2 separate regions of the Homo sapiens genome follow, and region 2 is linked to region 1. Evidence: fine-mapped expression QTL. Tissue or cell type: whole blood. Region 1 holds a variant in brackets; the other region holds the start of a gene. All regions are shown on one strand. Distances are from middle to middle.

Region 1 (2,685 bases):
TGAGTATTTGCAGACTGAATAGCTGATGAATGTTGGCTTCTTTGCATGGAGCTGTTTCCTACCAGAGGGAATGAACACCTGGAGTAGAATGCGAGGGCGATGCTTGAGGCAGTGCTGGGAGAGTGGGAGGGCCTGGCAGCAAATGAGCCACACCACAGCGGGTTTGGAGGCCTTGCCCCCGGGGGTGGGCTCCTCTCCCTGGACCCTGGTGATATTTGAAGGCAGCTGTCATGGCTCCCTTGCTTACCTTTTCCAGACTTGATTCCCCAAGACCTTCAACAATTTTCCCTTGTGATTGTCTCCTTTCATTATGAGGAGTAGACTCGAAACTGGGACATCTTGTGTTTTGAGGGAGCCATTTCTGGTTAGATATGACCCGTAGTTACTTCACAAAGGTTAGATATGACCCCTAGTTGCTTCCCTGAAAGCACTCAGCCACATAGAACTGCATTTTACCACAGAGGACAGGAGGGCAGAAGGCAGTAAGTGAGAAAAAGCTCAGGGAGAGGATGTAGAAAAGGTAAAGAGAGAAAGAGAGGGGGCAAATCAAGAGGGAAAAGGTTGGGGGAGAGGCAGGGGAGAGGAGGGAGGATCAGACTCCAAGTCAAGGCGGGGGATGCTGAAGGTGCGGGCTGCATGCTGGAATCCTGCTGCCCCTGCCGCCCCTGCTGGTGGCCACCCTCCTCTTCCTCTTCACCTCGGGTCTTGGCAACAAACCCCTTCCTCACTGTACAGTCTGCATGCAGCAATTTTGGGTACGTGGGCAAGAGTGGGAGAACTCATGCAGAAAAGGAAAGCCTAGATGTAGTTGTTTTGAGCCAGCACCAATAGCGGTGCTCTGTGTTTAGTTGGGACTCTGCATTCCGTGGGACACTCAGGATGGAGGCCAGCTGGCTGTCGCTCAGGGGCTCCCTTTCCCTGTCTCCTGTGTCTGGGAGTGGATCTCTGAAGACAGGGGTGATCTAATCATCCAGGGACTGATTGTCGTCTTAGGATAGAGAAACTGTTTCAGGTCAGAGCCCCAAGGGGCAATAGGACTTGAGAAACCAGTTGTTTCAGTCCTGCTGTCACTTTGGTAATTGGAGTGTCAAAATCCATGACACGGGGCTTTCTAAAATATATGTTTTAAGCAACTGC[C/T]GGAAGAGGGGGCAGTGCATTGGGGTTGGATTATGGAGCTTACTTCAGGGCAGGGCTGCATCAGGGTTGTGTAAGGTTGGCTCACCGGGCTGGTGAAAGCTGAGATCTTCCTTCCTGGAAAGGTCTTGGCAAACAGCATGAAATGATCTTATTTATCATGTTGCAGTCACACCTCTCCTAATTGAGGTGAAGCTTGGGGTAGTTTGAGGCTCTAGCTTTACTTTTTCTGAGAAGCACCGCTTGGACTCTTAAGTGCTCACCTGGGCTCTTGCAACAGACTCCCCACAGGCCATGTGCCTGGGGTCTCATTCCCACCCCAAACCCATCCCATAAAACACAGATAGAGAAACTTCTATGAAATGCAAATGTGATTATATCATTGCCCTCCCTGAAGCCTTCGGGGCTCTGCCCCTGTTCTGCTGAATGGAGTGTGAGTTCCTTGGCCTGGTACCTATCCTGTTCTCATCTGTCTCTCTTACCTCTCCCTGCCACGCCCCCAGTGCTCCTCATTCGCCCTCAAACCCCACGCCTGCCCATTTCCAGGCCTTTGCATACATGGTCTCCTGAAGCACCTTCATGTTTATCCCGGGATGTCTCCAGGTACCAGCCTTGATGTCACACTGATACTTACCCCTCCATGGAGATGGCCCCAGTGAAGGGCATCATTCCCACCTCAAAGTCCCACCGAGCTACATCCCACCGAAATCTTTTAGCTGGACCTCCCTGGCCTCTCATTTTCCACATCAGATTAATTTGAGGAGCTGTCTTGTCTCCCTGCAGGCCCGAGAACTCTTTGACAACATGGACAAGCTTTATTTATCATGAAGGCCCCTCAGCATTATACTGTGCCTGACACATAGTAAGTCTGCAGTTAATGTCTGTTGAGTGAATGAAGGGACATACAAGTGAGTGGACAAGTGAATTCATTTCTCCCCCAAGTTCTGGAGCCATCCCACCACCACCCAGGCCCCAGACCACATTCAGAGCACTGTGAAGTGTCTGGGAAGAGTTTAGCAGCTTAGACTACTTCTGATCCTTCCTCATTCCTCCCAGGAAGGCATCTAGCAGTTCAGGTTCCACTGCTAACACCAGCCTGGAGGGCAACTCATTGTTGCAGGAATTGTTGGATAGTCATCTGAAGACAGGTTGTCTCTGATTCTTTAGTCACCATGGTGCTGGGAAAGTCCCCAAAGGTCATGTTTCCCCAAAGGACTCATTAATCACAGAGATAGCTACTGATTTCCACTTGGAGTGGGAATCTTAACCTTGACATGGACATGGACATGCTTGCTCTCTCTATCTGAGAAAAGAAGCCCACTCTGCTCTACTCAGCAGAATGAGGTTTTTTTTTTTTTTTTTTTTTTTGAAATGAAAGAGGCTAATGGGAATGAAGAGGTTAAGTCACCTTGATGAGTTCTGTTCAACTACGTTTAAAGAAAATTCCGCAGGGTGCAAGTGGCTTGTTGTCAGACCTTCCCCCAGGGTCTGAAACAATTGCCTACATGCAGACTGAGTTACTAGAGACAAGGTAAATGGAAGAATCCTTGT
Region 2 (2,685 bases), 26 kb before region 1:
GTTTTCCTAAAGATTAGTAATTTTCATATGCTTATTGACCATTTGTATATCTTCTTCGGAGAAGTGTCTATTTGAGTCTTTTCCCCAATTTTTGATTGGTTTGTTTGTTTTTTGTTGTTGAGTTGTAGGGATTCTTTTATATTCTGGATATTAATCCCTTATCAGATATTTGTTTTACAAATATTTTCTTTGTAACAACAGAAACACACCACAGTCTTCAAGGTTGGAAGCCAGTTAATCTGAGTAGCATTTTGTTAGTGGTGGGGAGAGGATTTGTTCCTCCTGAAATCCTGGGGAATTGGCCACCTCCTCTTCTCCTCTTAGGCATGAAGCGCGTCTGGCTTCTCCAAAGAACTCTTCCCCTCCACTACCTCAGAGTTAGCTTCCTCTCTTCAGCCAGTGATCCTGGGGTCCCAGACACAATAATTAACCAAGAGAGGGTGAAAGGCTCCCTGCTGTGTTTATGCAATGGCTCAGGCCCTTGTGAAGTGCCGAGGGACCCCAAGCAGCCTCCATCTCCCAGGGCATGGTCCATCCCCAGCTTCACAGAACAGGAAAGCTGTGGAGGAGTGTGGGCAGCAGGGTAGGAATGGATATAGCCCTTGGCAACAACACATTTCCCCACAAAGCACCCACCCAAAAGAACAACAACGATAGTTTTAGTTTTTAGTAATGAGAACAATAGTTCTCATGACTAAAAGCCATCAGCCAGGACACGTGTTCTCAACCCTTTTGCGGTCTTTGGACCCTTTGAAACTCTGACAGAAGCCATGGAGGAATGTTCTCACTGAGTGCATGCACTCAAAATGATGCATTCAACTTCAATTCAGTTTCAGGGATGTATGGCCTGACCACCAATGCAGGGGATTAGCAATCGCAATAGTGGAGAGGGCATGGGAGTGGGAATCTGGCTGGATCAAGCAAGTGGATGCCAGCAGCCCAGAAAAAGAGCCCCCCTACCTGCTTTTTCCTTCTGGGCACTATTGCCCAGCAAATGCCTTCCTCTTTCCGCTTCTCCTACCTCCCCACCCAAAATTTTCATTCTGCACAGTGATTGCCACATTCACCTGGTTGAGAAACCAGAGACTGTAGCAACTCTGGCAGGGAGAAGCTGTCTCTGATGGCCTGAAGCTGTGGGCAGCTGGCCAAGCCTAACCGCTATAAAAAGGAGCTGCCTCTCAGCCCTGCATGTCTCTTGTCAGCTGTCTTTCAGAAGACCTGGTAAGTGGGACTGTCTGGGTTGGCCCCGCACTTTGGGCTTCTCTTGGGGAGGGTCAGGGAAGTGGAGCAGCCTTCCTGAGAGAGGAGAGAGAAAGCTCAGGGAGGTCTGGAGCAAAGATACTCCTGGAGGTGGGGAGTGAGGCAGGGATAAGGAAGGAGAGTATCCTCCAGCACCTTCCAGTGGGTAAGGGCACATTGTCTCCTAGGCTGGACTTTTCTTGAGCAGAGGGTGGGGTGGTAAGGAAAGTCTACGGGCCCCGTGTGTGTGCACATGTCTCTGTGTGAATGGACCCTTCCCCTTCCCACACGTGTATCCCTATCATCCCACCCTTCCCACCAGAGCCATAGCCATCTGCTGGTTTGGTTATTTGGAGAGTGCAGGCCAGGACAAGGCCATCGCTTGGGGCATGAATCCTCTGCGTACTGCCCTGGCCAGATGCAAATTCCCTGCCATGGGATTCCCCAGAAGGTTCTGTTTTTCAGGTGGGGCAAGTCCGTGGGCATCATGTTGACCGAGCTGGAGAAAGCCTTGAACTCTATCATCGACGTCTACCACAAGTACTCCCTGATAAAGGGGAATTTCCATGCCGTCTACAGGGATGACCTGAAGAAATTGCTAGAGACCGAGTGTCCTCAGTATATCAGGGTGAGGAGGGGCTGGGTGTGGCGGGGGCTCTCTGCCTGGTCCTGGGGCTGCCCTGGGCCAGCGGTCCTCCCTGCCACCCTTCATAGATGGCTATGCCTCGGCTCTCTCTGAGATCTTTAAACTCTGGCTTCTTCCTCCTCAATCTTGACAGAAAAAGGGTGCAGACGTCTGGTTCAAAGAGTTGGATATCAACACTGATGGTGCAGTTAACTTCCAGGAGTTCCTCATTCTGGTGATAAAGATGGGCGTGGCAGCCCACAAAAAAAGCCATGAAGAAAGCCACAAAGAGTAGCTGAGTTACTGGGCCCAGAGGCTGGGCCCCTGGACATGTACCTGCAGAATAATAAAGTCATCAATACCTCATGCCTCTCTCTTATGCTTTTGTGGAATGAGGTTCCTCGGTGTGGAGGGAGGGTTGGAAAACCCAAAGGAAGAAAAAGAAATCTATGTTATCCCACCCTACCTCTCACAAGCCTTTCCTGCTTTACCCCTCACCTGGCCTCTGCCCCACATTCCCTTCCAGCCCCTCCATCTTGAGCCATTGGATTTGAGGCTTAAGGATTCCAAAAAGTCCATGACACTATAGCTGATGATTTTACTAGTGGTTCTGAAATGGGTCGGGGATTTGGGAACAGGGTGGTAGTATAAGAACAACTGATACTGTTCTCTAAGCTAAATTTTAGCTTCCAGCTAAATGTCTTAGATGTGGCTCTTGGGAAATTAGAGTGATAGCTACATAGAAGTGTGTGGGTGTGTGTGTGTGTGTCTGTGTGTGTGTGTGTGAGAGAGAGACAGACAGAAAGAGAGCAAGAGAGGGA

Evidence for each region. PIP is the estimated chance that this variant, and not a neighbour inherited with it, causes the effect.
Region 2: it holds the start of S100A8, and the variant in region 1 is fine-mapped to the expression of S100A8 in whole blood (TOPMed, PIP above 0.99). The same link has a PIP of 0.9 or more in blood mononuclear cells and monocytes.

The regions. Positions count from the first base shown.
Region 1 is chr1:153,363,920-153,366,604 of GRCh38, reverse strand. No RefSeq gene overlaps it. Among named protein-coding and RNA genes, the nearest start is that of S100A9, 7.4 kb to the right of the region's middle. The variant C/T (reference allele first, on the strand shown) is at 1,138.
Region 2 is chr1:153,389,577-153,392,261 of GRCh38, reverse strand. It overlaps S100A8 (S100 calcium binding protein A8), which reads left to right and starts at 1,189. Exons shown (of 3, transcript NM_002964.5): 1 at 1,189-1,221; 2 at 1,705-1,867; 3 at 2,019-2,230. The coding sequence starts at 1,727. The coding sequence ends at 2,159. RefSeq lists a silencer at 1,982-2,182.